Homo sapiens: one gene and its partners. The protein of the gene in region 1 interacts with the protein of each later gene in a pairwise test. Each region holds a gene or a part of one and is shown in the gene's direction. Other genes may lie near its edges.

Region 1 (7,216 bases):
TCGGCAATCCCCAAACAGTATAAGCAATGAAATCCCTACTCAGAAAACACCATAATCAAAATGCTGAAAACTAAAGACAAAGAAAAAAATCTTGAAAGTATCTAGGAAAAAATAATTACATGAACAGGAATAATTTTCGTTTTACAATAATATTGGATTTATGGAAGAGTTGTCAAGATAACACAGAGTGTTTCCAGAAACTCTTCACCCAGTTTCCTCGATGTTAACCCAAAAGGCAATGAGGAAATCTAAATGACCAGGTTCCAGAGGAAGAAGAAACAAGTGTCTGGTGCCCAGAGACGACCAGATGCCCCACCAGTTCTGATCCATAGGAGAATGATCGTTCCACATGGCCAACTCCATCCTCATGCAGCAATTCCTCCACAAGCACAAGACAAGCTTGTCCTGATGTTCCTTGCCCTGGCAGATGTTCAGGACCTTCCTTTGATTCAACCCCTCCACCTAAATGGCCCAAGCTTTCGGGGCTGTCATTGTGAAGACCCCTTCCTATAAACCACAAGGCCCTACAGGTGCTGGACACTGTTGTTCTCACAAACACATCTCATGTCCACTTTTGCAGAGACTGAGGTACTTCAAGCTCCTTCCACCCTTGCATTCACTTTGTTCCTGTCTCTGTCTTGAAATGCTATTTCTTCCCCCTCTTTGCGAATCTCTCCCTCATCTTTCAGGTCTTAAATGTATGCCTTTGAAGAAGCTTTCACTGATTTCCCAGGCAAAATTAATTCCTCCTGTTCCTCTTTTTCATCACATTCTGTGTTTTTTAACTTTCTATAAAAACACTTATTGCAATGTGCAATTGTGTAACGATGTGATTATTTGTTGAATGTGCACATCAGTATCTCCATGATGACACGGATTGGATCGGGTTTTTGTTCATTTGCTGTATCAAGTGTTCTCAGAGTCACAGGGGGAAGGTGGTTATGGCATTGGGTGTGACACTTTTCCTTGCACAGATGTATTAGATTTTGTTCAGTAACAAAGCATAAAACCCAACCTCCCAGTGGCTTATAAAACAAACATTTACTTCTCAGTCATAGGTCTGTGGGTGAGTTGTCTTCTCTCTAGGCTTGGCTGTGCTCAGGTTTTGGGTTGGCTTCATTCTCAGGTCTGTTTGTCATTCAAGGGCCCAAGCTGAAGAGGGGGTTGTGGCCTAACCATGGTCGTGTTGTGCTGGACGTCACAGCAGAGGAGGAGGCGCAGAACAAAGGCTGCTCTCAAAACCTCTACTCAGACCCGGCCCACTCTCATCTGCTGGTATCCTGCTGTTTCAAAACCAGCCAGAGGGCCCAAGGTCAACATGAGGGAGAAATCAACCTCCCCCGCCTGTGAGACATAATGTTTCCAAACGGTCCCTTACTGGGCTGCTCTGTAACCACATCAGACCCTGGCACCCGGGACTGCACACTGCGGGCCCCATGGCCTGGGCCTCACAATTCTTAGAAACAGGTTCCACTCAGGAGGCCATGGGTGTCCCAAGTGAGGAACAACGTGCTCCAAATGTCACCCATCAGAGTTGTCGGAAAAGGAGGAAAACTTTGTCAAGGACCTTGGGTCAGTGCATTTCAGGAAAGCCCTGCCCCCGCGTTGACGCCACAGTGTACTTTTACAAAGCCCCTTAGTATCAAATTCAAGGTTGTCACTTACTGTCCGCTGATGTTTATTGAAAGCCTCTTGGGTGCTGGGAAGTGCACTTTTGGGTGGCGACACAGGCGAGAAGCCAGGCTTGGGTCAGGCCTTTCCTTTGTGGTTTCCCATCCCTCCACCTTCCCACAGAGTTGTCCCTTTAATTTAGACTCATCCCCACAACCCCTGTGAACCAGCAAGGGACAGCCAGGCAGAGCCCAGGTGACATGAACATAAAACAAATGAGACAAGAGGATTCATTGATACAAAACCAGGATGTCAGGAACCGTCACTTGAGAAATGCATTCTAGTGCTTTAGAACTCTTGTGAATTATGTTATCGGGTTAGTGGAAACGTGGGAAGTCTTTTCCTAGCCATATGCGAAAAGATTGTCTTTACACAGTAGGCAGACCAAAAATACACGCAGAATGAGTGGGAAACCCCATATGTGGTATGGGAGAAGGGGGAGCGCCAGCAGCAGATGCGCCATGACTTGAGTACTGGCCGTGTCCACACATTGTGCTAACTGCAGTGGCTGCTTTACTGCTTGGTGACGCAACCCTATGACAGAGTACTATTATTATCCCCCTATAAACACACAGCATCCACAGGATTGAAATGCAACTTCAAGAGCTACGCAAACAAGAATAAAGCGAGTACACGGTATCATGTCTGATGAGTGTGAACTTTCGTGGCAGAAGACTTGGTTCTGGTTCTGTCCAGGCCACTGGAACCCACTATCTGTGGGTGCAGGTGATTTTCCATCATGGAGCTAATACCTTAGCTGGGCATTATTTCACTTAATCCTTACAAGTGCCTTATTAGGTGCTTTCCATAGCTCTCCTTCAGCTGAGGTTTAGAGAAGTTAAACAATTTACCCAATATGTGAACTGGATATGTCTGACTCTACAACCGGTCTCTTCCATCCTATTTCCTCCATATAAGCCGTAACTTGGGTGCTTTTGTGAACATCAAAAAAGATGCGTATAAAGTCGCCTTGGGGAACGTTAAACCAAAGTCAATTAACATTACAAAATCAACTGAGGCCATATAGAACTTCCTTTAGAAAATTAACACATCCAATCATCATATTATTTCCCAAATGTTTACTTAGGTGCCTGTTGCAAGCACTATCTTATGTCATCTTCAATAAGCCCAAGAGGAAGCTTCTGCTCTAATCTTTAGATATTAAATTACGCGTTTCGGGGAAACTTCGCGTGTGAGGTAAAGCAACATGAGCGACTCTAAGGCGGCGCGGCATTGCTGTCCGGCCTCCTGCATCTCGGTGAGCAGAAAACGCGGGAGCGGGAGGGACTTCCCAGCTCCCGACGCCAGACACAGGCACAGCCGCCGCGTCAGAGGGAAGGCGACGTGGTTCAACAGCAACGGAGCCATTACTGGCGCTGAGCAGGGATGTTAAGGACAGAGCCAAGTTATCAGAGCTCTCCGAATCGAGTCCAGGGTCTGGACTGCCACAGACGGGTCGCCGCCTCCAGCCCCTGGACTTTTCCTTGGAGTGTCCGGGCGCGGACCTACTAGCTCCGAAGCCCTATGGGTGATCCCTTTCTGCTGGGCAACTGGGGTTGCGCTTTACACTACAAATCGAAGACGTCGCTTTTTCCATTTGTTCTGCAAGTGTTTATTGTGCACCGTCCACTCCCCCACAAACTCAATGTGCCGGCGGCAAGAGGCAAGACCGCAGACCCGTGGGCGCGCCTCCCGGTGTCGGCCGGTGTGCGCGGAGGGCGAAAGTGGCCGGGGCGCCCGCTCCGAGACGCGGCAGAGCCCCGCAGCCTCAGCGCCCGGCCTGCGCGCGCCCGGGGGAGGCTCTGGCCCACGCACATGCACACGCACGGGAGCGCTGGCTCCCGCGTCCCCGGCGCTGCGCCGGCGCCGGGCGCGGGCGGAAGCCCACGAACCAGGGCGGGAGGGAGCTTGAGGCGGGGCGGGTGTCCGCGAGCAGCGCTCGTGCTTAAGTTCCCTGGCTCCCGAAGCCCCGCCCTTGCCCCGCCCACTCCTTCTCCCGCGCGCGGGCTCCGCGCGCCCCAAGCCGCGCGCGTGCGCGCGCGTGCGCAGGCCAGGGCCCTCCGGGGGCGGCCCCGTAGTCTCCAACGAAAGCGTCGGCAAGGGCCCGGATTAACCCTTTCTTTGCTCGCCCACTTAGAGACCCGGTCGGGTTCCGTGCCTGCGCAAGCCGGCGGCGCGCCTTCCCCCCAGCCCGCACCGCGCATGCACGGGAAGGGGGGGGCGGTGGGGGTGTTCACGGCCGGCTAGACATTCTGTGCTCGTGCAGGAGGAGGGCTGCTACCATCAGGGACGTGCACGATTTCCCCCACCCCGCCCCCTCCCCAAACTCCAAAAAAAAATCCAAAACACACTGCCACCCACCGTGCCCCCGCGCCCCGAGCCCCTCCGGTCCCGGCCTGCGTTTGCTAGCGAGCGCGGGGAACCCACGGCAGTGTCTGTGCCTGTGCCAGGCTGCAGGTAAGCGCGGGCCAGGGTGCGGAAGGGGCTGGGGCCGTCCGCAAGGCGGGCGCGGGGGCGGCCGGCGGCTGGCGGGGCGGCCCGGAAGACGCGCGTTCTCGCCGAGCTCTGGGGCACCAGCCAGCTCCAGGATGTGCGGCGGCCGCCAGCGGCGCGGCGCGGTGCGAGCGGGGACGGGCGTGGGCCAGGGTTGGGCGTGGGGCCGGGGCGCCCCGGGGGCCGCGCGGGCCGGCGAGCGGGCTCGGGGAGCGGCCAGGCGGCGGCGGCCCCGCGCGCGCGCTCGCAGAGCCTCGGCGGCCGAGTTCATGGCCGCCCCCGCTCGCACCGCCGCAGTGCACCGCGGTGGGGGTGGGGACGGCCCGAACCCAGCGCGGAGCGCGGCCCGCCGGGCGCCGCCCCTCCGAGCCGCGGGCCCCGCCGCGCCGCCTACAGCCGCCGGCGGAGGAGGGGGCCGGGACCCAGCGCACGCACTCCCGGGTGCGCCCGCGGAGCTTGGGTTAGCCGGCCGCGCGCCGCCCCCGCCCCCGGCCGCGGGAGGGCGGGGGAGGGCCCGGCGCGAGCTGGCCGGGGAGTGCGCGGGGCGCGAGCTCCGGGCTCGCGGGCGGAGCGGGGCGCGGCGCGGCGCGGGGCTGCGGAGCCGGCCGCACGCCCGCTCCCGCTCGTCGCGCCGCCGGGGCCGCCGCGGGCCGCAGTCCCTCCCTGCGCGCTCCGAGCCGCGGTCCCAAGCCTGCGCTCGACGTCTGATTATGAAAGGGAAAGTGGCCCTTTCACCACCTGGCTCCCAGGCTGGGAGCTTTTGTCTGGGAAGGAGTGCAAACGGCCTCCTCCACTCCCCACCTCCCAGGCCCAAAGAAATTGAGAGGGAGGACTCGATACGCCTTGAGGGCTTCTTGGGTCTGCGCTTGGCTCCCTGCTTCCTCCCGACTCCGAAGTTGCAAGCTTGCAACAAGGAAGTCGTGCAGCCGCCATTGTCGGGCTGCCCGGGGCAGGGGAGGCGGCTGCAGCTGCTTATGTAAGTTTTTGGCTTTGCGGGAAGCCCGGCTCCCTGCACTGTAACGCGGCTTAGCGCGCCCGCAGTTTGGAGAGCAATTAGGAAGGGGCAGCCTTATTATGAAGGTGGTGTTGGGGCTACGTCTTTTCCTACACCTGCCTACACAGATGCTGGCAACAGCTGTCTTCCAGTTTTGACTCACCTGAACTGAGCAATTGGACATCTCAATGGCAAGGGGGGCGGGGCGGGGAGGAGGCGGCTTTGGACACACATGGTCTCTCTTCCAGGTCTCATACATCTTGAGAGAGAGAGGGGAGAGGGGCGAGTGGCCAAGTACACACTAGCCAAAACAACAACAACACATTGATATGTTGTCATAGCTAGTCTAAGGCCACTCCTCTCTCTGGTCCCATGCACTTTTATCCCACAAGCCCTAGGACGAGTTAGTGACAACAGTAGTAAGTGTCACAGTGTAAGGTTTTTGCTGGGCTGCCTAGCCTCTGGATGATTACAGGCCTGGGTGCTTCTAGGGAATAGAGAGGCAGAAACACGTAGAATGATCAAGTCAGAATCATCTTTTGGAAATGTTGCCTAACCTCAAACTTCAGATGAGACATCCCGCTTCTACGCTGGGTAGCTCGGTGTGTTCACTTTTCTTTAGAAGGAGCTTATTATGGGTTTCAAGGTGTTGGTCTCCAGGTTGGAGTCTTGTTCCATGGTTTTTGTGTAAGACTGTTACAGCCCAGTCCTTTGCTCCTACCACACCAAACAACTTATCTGTGTGGTCACTGTTCAGTAGAGGAAACTTTTTGTTTTTCAGGATATGGGTCTGCAGGATGGAGTTCTTCCGGTAAGAGTTAAAACTCACAAAAAAGCTGAAATTCTTTCACCCTTATTGTAGGGATAGAGGTAAAAACACCTGGATTTATCAAATACAATCTTAAAAACAAACGTGTATGCTATTAATACATCACACAGGTGCAGAAAGAAAAAGCAATCATTGTTCCCTCTCCTCCCATGTTACCTGTTGGGTTTATGTACTTCTATAGCTTTATTTGTAAGGTATATACTTCTATAGGTTTGTATGAGCCGAGAGAAAAATGTAGAGGGCTAACATACCCAGCGGGAAATGGGATAGGTGTAGGGGGCACGGTGCACTTGTTTTTTTCTATATCTGTGTAGCCATCAATCTCTGTACAAATATGGACATGAGCTTAGTGTGTGAGGAGAAATCCCTTAATGGTTCTCCAACCCCTCCTTCCAGTTCCTAGGGCACAGCCCCTTTATGCCCGAGTGCTACAGCCCTTATCTGTTCTAGTCCATATCTGTTCAGAACTGCACTTGATGTACCAGCTACCTACCTGCCACTCTCCCCAACCTGAAAATGCACAAAAGAGGGAACAAGAAAGTTTATTTTTAAAAAATCAATTCTTGGTTTAGGATTTGGGATACAGGAAGATCCTACCTCATTCTTGTTTATCCTTTCCTCTGTAGGTCTGGCGTGCTCCTGATCAGAGTTACTCTGATCTGAAGATTTTGGCGTTCAAGGCATTAAGATAATAGCCTGAGTTGTTCATGGTAACTATAACTTTGGATATTAAATCTTGATGAAAATGACTTGGCATTTGCTTTAAAATATATATACCAATTCTGATTGTGCATGAACACTTCTATTTGTCTGGGGGAAAATATTAGCCGAATAAAAGTAAAACAATGTTTTTAAAAAGGAAACATAGAGAATGCTTTAAGATGACCAGTTTTTTAACATGATGACAGAGATCTTTCATGCCAGTTCCAAATTTTTGCTTATAAAATACTCTCAGCACTTATCAAGTACTTACATCTGGTGTTGATGGCACTTTTATCTGGATGCAGGTAGATTGGCATCTAGAGAGAACAAAGCCACTTCCCAAATGTCATCTCATTCTCTTAAGGTCAGATTAAACCTTGACCTTCATTTAGAAGTGGCCCAAAAGTGCTGTGGAAAATCTAGAACACAACACTCAATGGGATATTTTGGCAGTAATGTTCCTCTCTAGTTCTGCAATAGTAATTTGTTCCTTCTGTCAAGGAGGTATAACATAATTATTTTGCTGA
Region 2 (7,022 bases), on another chromosome or scaffold:
TAATTTGATGGCTGCAAATCTCAGTTCAAATCTCTTTCACCCCAGTGTGAGGTGAGCTGTAACAGAGAAGAAACCTAAATAATACAACATTCCTGTATAATGGTATTTCAAAGAATCGTGTTCATAGTGTCTGTATGTAAACTGAACTTGAAGAAAATATATTGAAATTAAAGCTGTATAATGGGCCATTTACTGAGTGTTTCTTATGGATGCTGTAGAAGAAATTAACTTTTCTTGGCCATATAGATGTTTAAATTTTCACTAATGTCTTCTTGAAAAACCTTATTAAAAAAAAAGACCCTTTGAAAAATGTTTTTATTTTTGAAGAGAAAAAAAGTTGGTATGTCCTAAGTTCTGGTATCAATGTGCCTTGGTATAACAAAATATTTATTTCTGTATCATAGCAAATTCTCTAAGTGGAGAAAGGATAGTAAAAAAATAATCTTTCGTAAGTCAAATAGCCTTTCAAGGTGAAATATTTTGGGAGAAAAATAGCATATTAGGCCAGTTTTAGATTTAACCTCTGATACAGATTGAGAGACTGGTCCATGAGTCTGGTTAATCAAGGGCAGTGTGATGGATGGTGAGAGTTTGTCCAACAAGGCAGTAAGGCCACTTCAAAATTTAGGGAGGCTACTGTCATTCTAGGGGAGGAGACTGGGTTCATTAGCCCAAGAGGATTCTAGCAGACTGGTTTGGGCCACAGGTTGTGAAGCCCAGTGGTCTGCAGAGGTGAGCAAGTGGACATGTCCATGTCAGTCCAAAGGTACAGCAGGTTACAGACTGCAAGAGCCTAGTTGTTCTTGAGGTGATCCCAAAACCATGGTATCAGTAACAATGGTTGTAAGCCAGTCAGTCTTGGACAGTAAGTTCATAAATTGAGAAAGCTGATAGTTAAGAGAACCAAATTCAGAACAGGTAGAAGGGAGCAAGTAGGCCAGCAGGAGTAACCCCACAACATGCCTGTCACCACTGATGTAAACATGCACTAATTGTTCTCTGCCCTGTTACCACCTCTCTCCTAAGGGCAATTGGTAGGTAAGGACTCACTATTGCATTTTGGTACTCAGTGTTCAAACAGTAGACTTCCAAGCCATAATTTATTCATTCTTGAAGCTAAAACAAAGGCATTTCGGCCGGGCATGGTGGCTCGTGCCTGTAATCCCAGCAATTTGGGAGGCCAAGGCGAGTGTATCACTTTAGCTCAGGAGTTCGAGACCAGCCTGGCCAACATGGCAAAACCCTGTCTCTACAAAAAATACAAAAATTAGTTGGGCATGTTGGAGCACACCAGTAATCCCAGCTACTTGGGAGGCTGAGGCAAGAGAATCACTTGAACCCAGGAGACAGAGGTTGCAGTGAGCCAAGATCATGACACTGCACTCCAGCCTGGGTGACAGAGTGAGAATCTGCCAAAAAAAAAAAAAAAAAAAAAAAAGCATTTCTGGGGAGTTTTAGTAACTTCTCATTCATTTTTAAATAATAGGTTAACTGAAAGAGCAAAAAAGAGACGCACTTCTTCACAATCTATTGGACAAGTTATGCCTAATAGCAGGCAAGAGGATCCAGGTCCTATTCAAGTAAGGCAAGAAGCTACACATTAAAATATGGCCTCTTTTAACATTACTTCTTTTTTCCTTTTCTCTATCTTTAGGGCTCTAATACTTTTTTGTTTGTTTGTTTTGTTTTTTTGAGAGAGGATCTCTCTCTGTTGCCCAGACTGGAGTGCAGTGGTACGATCTCAGCTCACTGCAGCCTCGACCTCCTGGGCCCAAGCAATGCTCCCACCTCAGCCTCCCAAGTAGCTGAGACTTCAGGCACATGCCACCATGCCCAGCTAATTTTGTTCATTTTTTTGTAGCGACAAAGTCTCACTATGTTGCCCAGGCTGGTCTCAAACTCCTGAGCTCAAGGGATCCTTCCGCCTCAGCTTCCCAAAGTGCTAGGATTACAGGTGTGAGCCAACGCACCCAGCCTCTAACACTTCTAAAAATGTGCTTTAAGTTTCTTTTTTTCTTCCTGAGTTGAAAATAGGCCATTATTTTCTAAGTGCTTTCACAATTAATTAAGTTCATATATCTTAATTTATCACAATTAATTAAGTTCATATATCTTAATTTATGTATTTAACATGTGACTTAGGCAGAGTAAGTTAAGATTTCCACCTTTGAAAGTCACAAGAAGTTTTGTTTTTTTCACTCCCAAAAAATGTTTTTAATATCTTTATGGATTAAAAACAATTGCCAAATAAACACAACTTATTTTCACTAGAAAAAATAATCAAAATAATCGATGTAGTTCATCCCCCTCCCAACTTTTGTTTTGTTTTGTTTTTGGCTTATTTTGCATTATTCATCGCTAATGGGACCTCACAACTTTTTACATAGGAAATTGATTTATTCAAAATTGAAGCACAATGTTAATTATAATAACAAAAAACTGAAAACAATACAAACCTGTCCAAAAGCAGATGACTAAGTACATTAGGGTACATTCATACAGTGGAATACTAAACATTACATTGTGGAAGAGTGTTCATTGATCTAGACAAGATTTTATCATCTGTTTTCAAATGAACAAAAATCTGGTAACACAGAAGGTTTCCCAGATGCTGGATGTGCAATACATTTTTTCCTTTGGGTTTTCCCAGTGTTTACAAAGCATATCATTTTCTAGGTAGATAAAGAAGTTATTAAGAAAATGAACTGAAGCAATTTGTTCAAAGTCAGAGTGCAGTGAATAGTATTAAAAATGAAAAGTTAAGTTTGTGGTTCTGGCCAGGCACAGTGGCTCTCACCTGTAATCCTAGCATTTTGGGAGACTGAGCTGGGAGGATTGCTTGATCCCAGGAATTTGAGATCAGCCTGGGCGACATAACGGACCCTGTCTGTACAAAAAATGAAATAAAATAAATTAGTCGTGTGTGGTGGCATGTGGCTGTGGTTTCAGACTCGGGGGCTAAGATGGGACTATGGCTTGAGCCCAAGAGGTTGAGGCTGCAGCCGTAATGGCGCCACTGTATTTCAGCCTGGACAACAAAGCAAGACTCTGTCTTAATAATAATAATAATAATAATAATAAGGCCAGATGCAGTGGCTCATGTTTGTAATCCCAGCATTTTGGGAGCCCAAGGCAGAAGGGTCACTTGAGCCCAGGAGTTTGAGATCAGCCTAGTCAACCTAACAAGACCCCATCTCTACGAAAAATTTAAAAATTAACCAGGCATGGTGGTATGTGCCTGTAGTCCCAGTTACTTAAGAGACTGAGGTGGGAAGATCACTTGAGCCCAGGGGGTTGACGCTGCAATGAGTCATGATCATGCCAATGCACTCAAAATAATAATAATAATAATAATATTATTATTATTATTATTATTGTGGTTCTCATGACCAAGACTATTATGCTCAGAATATTAAATATGCTAGAAATGTTTGCTTTATGAAACTTTTATTGGAGTTTGATCTGTTGATATGTTCAATAGTGTTCTATTCTAAATCTTCTTAATTATTAAATTAATTGTTATGTCTATCTTATACCATCCAAATGGCTAGCAATTCTAGGATTGTCATTCTACAAATAGTTAGACACATTTCTTCAACTAACTCTTGTTTGTTTGTTTAGAGCCAAATGGAGAAGGGTATATTTAATGAGCGAACAGGTCACAGTGACCAAATGGCAAATGAGAACAAAAGGAAGCTGAATTTTTCCAGATCTGACAGGAAAGAATTCCATTTTCCAGAATTGCCTGTCACAATACAGTCAAAAGATACAAAAGGAATGGAAGGTACACATTTGTTGCATAGCTTTACAATTATGATGATATCATTTATAAGATTTTTTCATAATATAACTTACATTTTATAGTGTGATTTAGGTAGAAAATAGTAAATTGGTGAGGAAAACATTTCAGCTGATGAGATTTTCTCCCCATTGTCAAATAAGGGGTATGATTTTAAGGAGATAATTTTAAAGAGGCTTAGGCGTGTAATCCCAGCATTTTGGGAGGCCAATGCAGGAGGATTGCTTGGGCCCAGGAGTTTGAGACAAGCCTGGGCAACATAGCAAAACCCTGTCTCTACAAAAAATAAAATAGCTTGGTGTGGTGGTGTGTGCCTGTAGTCCCAGCTACTCCAGAGGCTGAGGTAGGAGGATTGCTTGACCCAGGAAGTTGAGACTGCAGTGAGCCATGATCACGCCACTGTACTGCACTCCAGGATGACATAATGAGACCCTGTCTCTAAAAAAAAAAAATTTTTTTTTAATTAAAAAGAAAAATAAAGAGAGGTTAAGACAGCTTTAAAAGGTAAATTATTAAAATTTATTTATTTATTTATTTATTTAAGACAGAGTCTCACTCTGCTGCCCAGGCTGGAGTGCAGTGTTGCAATCTCAGCTCAGTGCAACCACCACCTCCCAGGTTCAAGTGATTCTCGTGCCTAGCCTCCTGAGTAGCTGGGACTACAGGTGCCCACCAACACGCCTGGCTAATTTTTGTATTTTTAGTAGAGACGGGGGGGGGGTTCCACCATTTTGGACAGGCTGATTTCGAACTCCTGACCTCAGGTGATCCACCTGTCTCAACCTCCCAAAGTGCTGGGATTACAGGCGTGAGCCATTGCAGCTGGCTGCAAAGGATAAATTTTTTATTAGCTCAATGTTGTTGAAATGTTAGAATAGTATTTGAGAAATTTGTTTAGTATATGACCTGGGGTAAATTGCCTTTCTATGTTTCTTCATGATCATTTACCCATATAGTAGCAGAAATTTTATATGTATTTTGAGCATCCAAGGATTAAATATATAAGATTTATAGGCTGGGCACAGTGGCTCACACCTGTAATCCCAGCACTTTGGGAAGCCAAGGTGGGCGGATCACCTGAGGTCAGGAATTTGAGACCACCCTGGCCAATATGGCAAAACCCCATCTCTATTAGCCAGGCATGGTGGCTCATGCCTGTAATCCCGGCTACTTGGGAGGCTGAGGCAGGAAAATCACTTGAAACCGGGAGGCGGAGGTTGCAGTGAGCCGAGATCGCGCCACTGCACTCCAGCCTGGGTGACAGAGTGAGACTCCATCTCAAAAAAAAAAAAAATTTATGAACTTAAGATTTATATCAGAATGAAACGCACTTTTGTCTTGAATAAATGTTATGTTTCTTTGAAGAACAGTGACACCTTGTGAAAAATTAATATAATAGCAAGAATATCATCCTTGTACAGTTCAAGAGGAATTATCTGATCCACTTAACAGTTACACTGAGAATAATAAAATAAAATAAAATAAAATAAATGTCTTATTTTAATACTTAGTAGACTATTTGTAAAGTTATAAAACAAATAATTTACCATATTTTACCATTACAACTCATAATTTATTTTGTTCCTTTGTAATAAACTGAGAAACTGACTTAGTGGATTTCTATTTGAAATTCTTGGAAAGGAAAGTAAAATTTCAAAGTAGGAATAACAAATTTTCATTGTTTTGTATATTTTTGCAAAAGTTAAACAGATAAAAATGCTGAAGAGGGAGTCAAAGAAAACAGAGTCATCTAAGATACCAACTTTACTTAACGTGGATCAAAATCAAGAAAAACAAGAGGTAACTCTTTTTGTATATAGCTTTTACTAAGGCATGTTGTTTAGAGGACTTGACTCAGTGTATAAATTTAGTTATTACTATTGGAAAGCTATATAAAAATTCAAAATTTTATAATCTTTGAACTAAAGAAACAGATCTATATTTTCCTAGAATAACCCATTAATAAAAGTTTCTAAAAGTTATTTTTTGGTGGGTAATGTTGAATGATTAGAATGCATGGCACCCAGGGAAAATATTATCTGTATTGTGTGTAGTGTCAGATATCAGGCAGGTAAGTCAGACTAGTGAAAATGAATAATGGTATAAATATATGGTTATATGGCCACAAGCATGTGTGTCTTTGCCTTTAAGCCTCTTCCTTCCTTCGTTTTCTCTCCAGTTTATTCCCTTATCTCTGCTGTCTGCCTGCTGTCCTATTTTCACAAATATTTGCTCTCAGCTAACTATCAGGTAATCTTGTTGAAATATTCCCAGTCCCTACCCACCAGAGAGATTCTCAAATTTTATTTGAAAATCTTGAAGCCTGTAATATCCAAATGAATGCTCTATAAAGACAGTCTTTTAAGAGAGAGAGATTGTGCTGAGCACCCACTGAATTAAATCATATCGATGGCCTCCTATTCTACACTTGTGAGGTCATCTCTGTATGTGATTTATCAACTTCTGTTTTTGTGTTTGTTTGTTTGTTTGTTTGTTTGTTTTTGAGACGGAGTGTCTCTCTGTTGCCCAGGCTGGAGTGCAGTGGCGCGATCTCGGCTCACTGCAACCTCTGCCTCCCGGGTTCAAGCAATTCTCCTGCCTCAGCCTCCCAAGTAGCTGGGACTACAGGCACACGCCACCACACCCAGCTATTTTTTTTAAAAAATATTTTTAGTAGAGACGGGGTTTCACTGTGTTAGCCAGGATGGTCTCGATCTCCTGACCTCGTGATCCACCCGCCTGGGCCTCCCAAAGTGCTGGGATTATAGGTGTGAGCCGCCGCATCTGGCCCAACTTCTGTTTTTTTAAAAAATAAAATTTATTACAGTTTTACTCATGATAAAATTAGTAAATACTTATTAAGAAAATTTGAAGAAATTAAAAATATTTTAAAAAATCTGAAACTCTGTAAGAAGGCATTTTAACAAGGCTACTTGATCTCTATAATATTTGGATAGAGGGTTATCAGACACTATTAGATGTATTCTCACTGTGACATTTAGGGCTATCTCTTTAGTCTTGGCCTAGAGCTTGTTAAGAACTCCACAGTCCACTTTGCAGAGAAGAAATGTTGTAGAACAAGAATGCCATTAGGCCGGGCACAGTGGCTCACACCTGTAATCCCAGCACTTTGGGAGGCTGAAGAGGGTGGATCACCTGAAGTCAGGAGTTCAAGACCAGCCTGGCCAATGTGGTGAAACCCCTTCTCTACTAAAAATACAAA
Region 3 (7,803 bases), on another chromosome or scaffold:
TGGTTCTGTGATGGGGAGATTGAAAATGACTGTGCATTCTCTTGCTCCTGACAGGGTAGGATCCTCTTTTAGGAGAAGGAGATCTGAATTTACATTTTCTTGGGCTTTAAGACCTCTCCCCTTTTTCTCTGCTTTCTTTTTTCTTCTTTATCCTTATTTTTCTCCTTATATTGCTTTTTCATAGACACCAGGTTTTTTTTTTCTTGTTCTGTCTGTCTCTGTTTTTTTTTTTTTTCTTCTTTCTTCAGTTCTAGGAAAGCAGAAGAGATTCCAGTGATGTCTTCTTGTGCGTTTAACAGCAGGGACTACAGTTCTCCCATAATTCTCTAGTAATTTCATTCAAAAACCCAGTCAGATTGCTTTGTATCATTTTGGAGTCTGGATTTTCCAAACACATAAGGGAGTGCAGTGTGACATTGGGATGTTCATTTTGCTGAGACCTAATACAATGATGATGTTATACTTGAGATGCAAGGAATAACTTCCATTTTGGTTCAGGTCTCCACTTCCACCTGGTTGAATATAAACTCAATCACGGCATCTTCTTCAAACCCAAGGATTTCCATTATTCATATTGTTATCTAAGTCTTTATTAGCCTCCAAATTTACTTTGCTTATGTCTGCCTTTTTTCTAGGCATCCTGCAAATTTCAGCTCCTTCAGTAGCATCTATTTGTTGCTGAACCAATGATCTTGTCTTGCACTTGTTTCTTGGAAGGTCATTTTGCTTCTGAGCTCTGAGATTGCTGCCTAACCCAAAGTGCACTGGACCTCCTGGACCAGAGGGAAAGCCCACTTGTTGGGGGAGTGGCTCAGTAACATTTCATTATATGCATACACCACATTTTGTTTATCCATTCAACAGCTGAAGGACATGTGAAGTGTTTCCATCTTTTGGCTCCTATTAATGCTGCTTTGAACATTTGTGTTAACTACAACAAAGATCGAGGCTGGGCATGGTGGCTCATGCCAGTAATCCCAGCACTTTGAGAGGCTGAGGAGGGCGGATTGCTTGAGCCCGAGACCAGCCTGGGCAACATAAGTGAAAACATAAGTGAAACCCTACAAAATAATAATAATAATAATAAGCTGGGTGTAGTGGCCCGCGCCTACAGTCCCAGCTACTCTGGAGGCTGAGATGGGAGGATCTTTCAAGCCCGGGAGGCAGACGTTGCTGTGGGCTGAGATCATGCCACTGCATCCCAGCATGGGCGACAAAAAAAAAAAAAAAAAAAAAAAAAGAAAAAAGATTGAGACACAGAGGTCAAAGGAAATAGCATTTAATTTATTTGAGAAACAAAGAATTGCAATTCACGTACAGTGAATCAGAGCAGCCCTGAATAGTGTCTCATAAGGCAAGCACAGGAGAGGGTTTTTTAAATAGGGGATTCCCACAAGAAGTTTTCAGAGGCAGTTCATTGGCTGGGTAGAACTCTTAAATCTCAAACCCATTCTGATTGGTTGGTTAATTAGGGTACTCACGCTGAGAGATGATGAAGGCTGGCAGATACTTACTGACTTCAGTTGTTTCTACAGGTCTATTCGGTGGTTTGACTTTTTAGCAGGTGTGAATGCAATCCCCTAGCAATCTCCTGACTCCACTTTAGAAAGCCTTCACCTTAGTTACTTCATTTTCTTCCACACTGCACAAGTTTTTGTGTGAACATGTTTTCAATTATCTTTGGTATATACCTAGGAGTGAGTCATATAGTAATTGTATATTCAACTTTCAGAGGAGCCGTCACAATTATTTTTAGCGGGTTTATAGCTTTATTTGACATATATGACAATTGGCAGTTAGTTCTCATCCACACTGACTATCTAGATTTTTGAAAGTGGTAACAGGTATACAGGTAACCACAGTATTGAGCTTGTTTGGTGAATTTTCATCCTTGTTATGTTTTCTGAACAATCGCACATGTACATGGTGTGGGACATTCCTTATTCCTTTGGCCCTGATAGCCTTGTTAAGCCTGGTATCAATGCACACATCTGGAGTGCCCATCTTCATGGCAAATTTCTGAATCTCTTTGAATGCCCACAGAGCATGCTTCTTGAAGCCCACTCCATGGATGTGAGCTAGTGACCCAAGTGTGTTCTTGGGTCACTACCTTGTTGATGGCAGAACAGCTCATCTTCTTGCCACCCTTCTTTGCAGGAGCCATTCTGCCAGGCCCAAGATGGAAAGGAAGAACATGAGGGACGGTGGGAGAAAGAAGGCCTAAACTTTTAAAAAGTGGCTGCACCATTTTACATTTAAGACATTTTGACACATTGTATTTTTGTTGTTATTTGACTCTCTAGATAATTTCTGCCATGACTTTTTCTGTAATGCACAAATTGTTTTTTGAAGAGTTTTAAATTTCCCAACTAAAAAGGCTTTTCTAGTTATTTTTCTTTTATAATGTCTAACTTGGCTGGGCGTGGTGGCTCATATCTGTAATCCCAGTGCTTTGGGAGGCCAAAGCAGGCGGATCACCTGAGGTCAGGATTTTAAGACCAGCCTGGTCAACATGGTGAAACCCTGCCCTCTACTAAAAATACAACATTTGCTAGGCGTGTTGGCAGGCACCTGTAGTCCCAGCTATTCGGGAGGTTGAGGCAGGAGAATCGCTTGAACCTGGGAGGCGGAAGTTGCAGTGAGCCGAGATCACGTCACTGCACTCCAGCCTGGGTGACAAGGAGACTCCATCTTAAAAAAAAAAAAATTGTTTTGTTAATTACAATAAATTATGTCAAAAACAAAGATAATTTCTTAAAACTCTTCACTTTCTTTTATGTTCCTTGCATCTACTGTATCTGTATGGTGGAAATACTATATAATGGTGTGCTACTAGACATCTTTTCTCAAATTCTTATTAAGTGATGTCACATTGGTGGCTTGAAATTGGCTATGATGGGAATATTGACATCATGGAAATCAGCAAAAGCTAAACATTGGACATTTAAACTTAAGAAACGGATGTGGAAAATATTAATGCAGAGTAAACTTAAAAGTTTGTGTTATCTGTAGCCTTTACATTGTGACTTGCAGAAAAAATTAAGAAAAATTATTCCAGTGTTAGAAAATGATTATCTATTTCAGCAAAGAAGTTGCTCATAACATTGACAAGTGAAATTCTGACATAGATCTTGGATATGTCACTCTCATCTTAATCACAAATAAAAACAAAAATATTAACCAACATTCATGTTGGAACTAGGTTGTTAAACAATTGCAACCATAAGTTGGCCACAAATACAGGAGTACAGCATAAACCAACGAAAGCATTCTGAGAGAAGCAATTGTCTATGAGGAATTTACAGTAAAGAGAATAGGATATTTCATTATTTATAATTCATCTGCTATAATTCCTTATCAATACTTTTGTTGGTGGTGGTGGTGGTGAGACGGAGTCTTGCTTTATTGCCCAGGCTGGAGTGCAGTGGCGCCATCCCGGCTCACTGCAACCTCCGCCTCCCGGGAGTGCGCCTGTAATCCCAGCTACTCCGGAGGCTGAGGCAGTTTTGTAGCCACAAAACTGGCTGCCGTGTCTGACTGGAAATTGCTCCCCTGGAAACTTGGCCACACCTGGCGGTGCATATCTCATGGTTCTGGCTCTGGCTTCTGCTTAGAACCCAGTCAGCATCTGTTCCAGCATGGGAAGCAACTGTTCAGCTAAAACCAAGAGCAGCCTGAAGGAAGTGGGGACGTAGGAGACTTTGTAGGTGCTCACACCCAGACAGGAGAACAAAGGTTTGGTAAGGGCTCAGACCTTAGAGACGGGTTCTCGACGATGTGCAGCGCATAACGAGGAAAATACTGACCGGAGGGGGCCGGTCGTAGGGCTGGGGAGCAGGAGGAGGGCAAAGGATAGAGAGGGGGTAGATAGGGAGTAGATAGGGGGCGGCAGCCTCGGCCTCAGTAAGCAGGGGCTCAGGGAGCAGATGTCTGAGACTGCACCACGTCCGCTATTTTGAGGTTTGGCTTCTCTTACTGCCACGTGGTGCAGAGGGAAGGCGCCATTTGATGCGTCCAAATCCCGAGTGGGAAGAGAAGATACGGATGAGGGAGATGGATGTGTCTGTGGTGACTCTTGGGCACTTGTGCCGTTCAATCCTGTCACTCTCAAGCTGAAGAACCCAAAGCAAACGCCAGGTTTACAATACCTGCACTATCACTCATTAGTGGGAGGGTCAGGCGCCACCCAACTCTGGGCTTTTATTGGTCATGTCAAGAAAAAAGCGAGAGGGACAACTGGGAGCCTCCTTCTGATTGGTGGATTCCTGCTAGCCCTCAAGTCAATCAGAGTAGAATGTACCGCCCTCCTTCCCACTCTGGCCCCCGCGGGAGACATGTTAGGTAGCGGGACGCCAACCTTGTCACTCTTCTGAGACCGCCACCCAGTAACACGCCCTGCTTTCCTCCGCCGCCGCCGTCTCCTCCATCAACTGTCTCCTTCTAACATGTTATTGCAGTTAATAAAAAAGCGTTCTTTTCTTCACAAAAGCAGTTGTTTCATTGTATAATGTGAGAAGTCTGCGTTCAGGCGGTTAGACGCAAAGGAGTGGAATAAGTGCCCTGTTCAGCCTGCCAACCTTCGGAACCAGCCAACAGACTCGGTACTGACTGCCATGATCCAGTAAGCACCCGACTCGGGTCTCTGGCAGCCTGAGTGGATTTTGCGTGACTTTTGGTCCCTGGCGGCTCCTGTAGCGTCCCCAGTTACGGCGCCCATAGCAACCGGCTCCCTAGCTAGGCGCCCCCGGGTTGCCAGGGGCCGCACCAGCTTTCCCGTCCCGGGCCAGCGCAGGCGCTCAGGCCTCGGAGGCGGGGCGATGGCCACCTCCCACCGAGTGGCGAAGCTGGTGGCCTCCAGTCTCCAGACCCCGGTAAATCCCATCACTGGAGCGCGGGTCGCCCAGTACGAACGCGAAGACCCCTTAAAGGCCCTGGCGGCAGCGGAGGCGATCTTGGAGGACGAAGAGGAGGAGAAAGTGGCTCAGCCCGCTGGGGCATCGGTAATACTGGGGCGGGACTTGGGCTGGGACCTCGCATGGGCTGGGTGCAGGCTGAGGGCTGTCCGGTTCCCCGCCCAGCTGAGGGCAGGCTGGTAAACGCGGGTCCCTGTGCACATAGTCCCTACTTGGTGGTCCTGGCCCAGCCCCTTCTCTACGCTCACGAAAATTACTCTAAATCGAGGCGTTGAAAAGTGTTTTAATTTTCACCAGTCTGTTGTAAAAGCTTCCTAGACAACATTTATGTTACTCTGCTTCTGGCAAGTGCAAAGTATAGAATTTTACTCTCTACTCTCCAGCATCTCGGGAATGGATATATAGAGATATATCTGGCTATATATAGTAATTTGAGGAAAACTGTTCTGTCAGGTGTGTTTCGTTATTACCTTAAGATCTTGGTTATAAGCGGATCTCAACATAGTGCTCTAAAGATGTGTGTTTAAAACCATCACGTGTTCACTGGCTAAATCAGACACGGATACAGATAAGCAAATCACTGAGGTTTCAGTGTTTCCTAAACAGCTCTTTAGGGTACAGCGAGACGGCCTTTTCACTGATCAGTTTTCATTGTTAAATCTGTTGTGGACACCAGTCCAGCAGGTAGAGGGCAGGGTCTGCCATCTGCTCAATTCACTTAAAAGATGGGAATCTTGGCCGGGCGCGGTGGCTCGTGCCTATAATCCCAGCACTTTGGGAGGCCGAGGTGGGCGGGTTACGAGGTCAGGAGTTCGAGACCAGCCTGACCAACATGGTGAAACCCCGTCTGTACTAAAAATACAAAATTTAGCCGGGCGTGGTGGTGCGCCCCTGTAATCCTAGTTACTCGGAAGGCTGAGGCAGGAGAATCGCTTGAACTTGGGAGGTGAGGGTTGCAGTGAGCTGAGATCTCAGACCCAGTCTCAAAAAAAAAAAAAAAAAAAAAAGATGGGAATCTTGAATTTAAACTAGCAATCTGCAGATAGAAAAAATTTCCTAATACCATGTGTCCAAAGCTTCTCAGACACCAAACTTATGATTGAGGACTAACTGAAATCACTGGATATTTTGGAATTCTGATCTCTTTAATCTACAGTAAAATTGTTAATGAGAACATCTTTAGCAACACCTTTTGTGACCAATCTTTCACCAACAGACAAACAACTTGAAGTTATCCAGAGTAAGGCAGACTGAGACCCTGAACATGAACCAGGATCAGAGTGCTAGGACCGATTTTGTTCATGATGAAGCTACCCCTCAACACAATTTTCAGTAGGCAACAAGGCAACGTGATGGAGAAAAAGGATTGAAGAGTTCTGTATTAGGATCCATTCCCTGCCACTTCCTAGGTGGTGTTAGGACATAATTTCCTTAAACCTCAGTTTCCTTATCTGTAAAATAACTATAATAATTGTCTCTTTTTTCCCATCTCAGCTCTATGAGAACCAAATGAAAGAATGTGTGTCTCCTCTAAAGAGCAATCTATGTAAATGAGTTGCCAGTGGGAGTGTCATTTGTGTGCCTTCCCAAAGATTAAACTCAACTTTGGCTTGCTGTGGTAAAGGAGTCAGTCACTTCTAAGTTGCAGATATGCTTCCACAGTGCCCTGTTAAACTGCAAATTTGTGTTAGAAACTGTTATTACCTTAGGAGGGATCAGTTTATACAATAATCTAGTTTGGAAAGGACAGGATCCTACAAAAAAAAAAAGGAAGCCAAGTCTTAAGAGTTTGGTACTGTTCTGAGACCACCACACATGAGGGATCCAAAAGTAAAGCTGGGTAAGCTGCCACAGTGGGCCTGATAGCCAGGGGGCACAGGCTGGGGGAAGAGGCATTAAGAAGGCAGGAAGAGTGCAGGAAATAGGCTCTGCTTTCTTCACTGGTTGGCTTGGGTCTCCATCTTGATTTTTAAAGGTTAATTTGCCTTAACCTTATTATCTATAAAATGTAGTAAAGTCAAATATTATACCTAACCCACAAGATTGATTTGAGAACCACCCATCACAATAGGCCTCTTTCAGCTCTTTGGTTTTGCCAAAGCCAGACCACTCATCCCACCCCACACTGCCCCCCAACCCCCCAACCCCTGCACCATCCCTATACACCCTCCCAGCTCTGGCATACACACGCACCCCCCTTGCAGTGCCCATATTGGGCACTGATGCCTGTTCCTTGAATCTAGCCTTAGTCAGAGATGTTGGTCCACATATCCTGTTATATGACTGATGATGACACAGGTAACGCAGTATTCTGTAATTCGCAATTAAAATCTCACTCCTCCCAGCACTTTGGGAGGCTGAGGCAGGTAGATCACTTGAGGTCAGGAGTTTGAGGCCAGCCTGGCCAACATGGCAAAACCCGGTCTCTACTAAAAATACAAAAAGTAGCCGGACGTGGTGGCACGCGCCTGTAATCCCAGCTACTAGGGGGCGCTGAGGCAGAATTGCCTGAACCCGGGAGGCGGAGGTTGCAGTGAGCTGAGATGCAAAAACTGCACTCCAGCCTGGGCAACAGAGTGAGACTATGTCTCAAAAAAATAAATAAATAAAAAGAAAAAATAAAATCTCACTCCTAATGGGGCAACCTTATCTTTTCAACAAATATTGAACATTTATTAAGTGCTAGTCATTAACTATTCAGTGTATATATAGCTCACATCCTCACAGAATTTTCAGTCTGGTGAGGGAAATCAGACAATTAAAAATGAACAGGGCCGGGCGCGGTGGCTCACATCTGTAATCCCATCACTTTGGGAGGCTGAGGTGGGTGGATCACCTGAGGTTGGGAGTTCAAGACCAGCGTGACCAACATAGAGAAACCCCATCTCTA

What was found. Proteins that work in one complex are often made in the same cells at the same time.
Region 2: the proteins of ZBTB14 (region 1) and CDKL3 interact in binary tests that used the Homo sapiens proteins (3 or more experiments, as listed by UniProt).
Region 3: the proteins of ZBTB14 (region 1) and FAM161A interact in binary tests that used the Homo sapiens proteins (3 or more experiments, as listed by UniProt).

What each region holds. Positions count from the first base shown.
Region 1 is NC_000018.10:5,292,725-5,299,940, reverse strand, and holds the start of ZBTB14 (zinc finger and BTB domain-containing protein 14), read left to right. Parts: upstream 1-4,214; 5' UTR 4,215-4,289; intron 4,290-4,519; exon of another isoform or gene 4,520-5,760; intron 5,761-5,939; 5' UTR 5,940-5,969; intron 5,970-6,613; 5' UTR 6,614-6,694; coding exon 6,695-6,697; intron 6,698-7,216. UniProt on the Homo sapiens protein: Transcriptional activator of the dopamine transporter (DAT), binding it's promoter at the consensus sequence 5'-CCTGCACAGTTCACGGA-3'. Binds to 5'-d(GCC)(n)-3' trinucleotide repeats in promoter regions and acts as a repressor of the FMR1 gene.
Region 2 is NC_000005.10:134,301,167-134,308,188, reverse strand, and holds part of CDKL3 (cyclin-dependent kinase-like 3), read left to right. Parts: coding exon 1-51; coding exon of another isoform or gene 52-55; exon of another isoform or gene 56-188; intron 189-1,486; coding exon 1,487-1,580; intron 1,581-3,621; coding exon 3,622-3,784; intron 3,785-5,501; coding exon 5,502-5,599; intron 5,600-5,978; coding exon of another isoform or gene 5,979-6,049; intron 6,050-7,022.
Region 3 is NC_000002.12:61,851,056-61,858,858, reverse strand, and holds the start of FAM161A (protein FAM161A), read left to right. Parts: upstream 1-4,798; 5' UTR 4,799-4,817; coding exon 4,818-5,000; intron 5,001-7,803. UniProt on the Homo sapiens protein: Involved in ciliogenesis.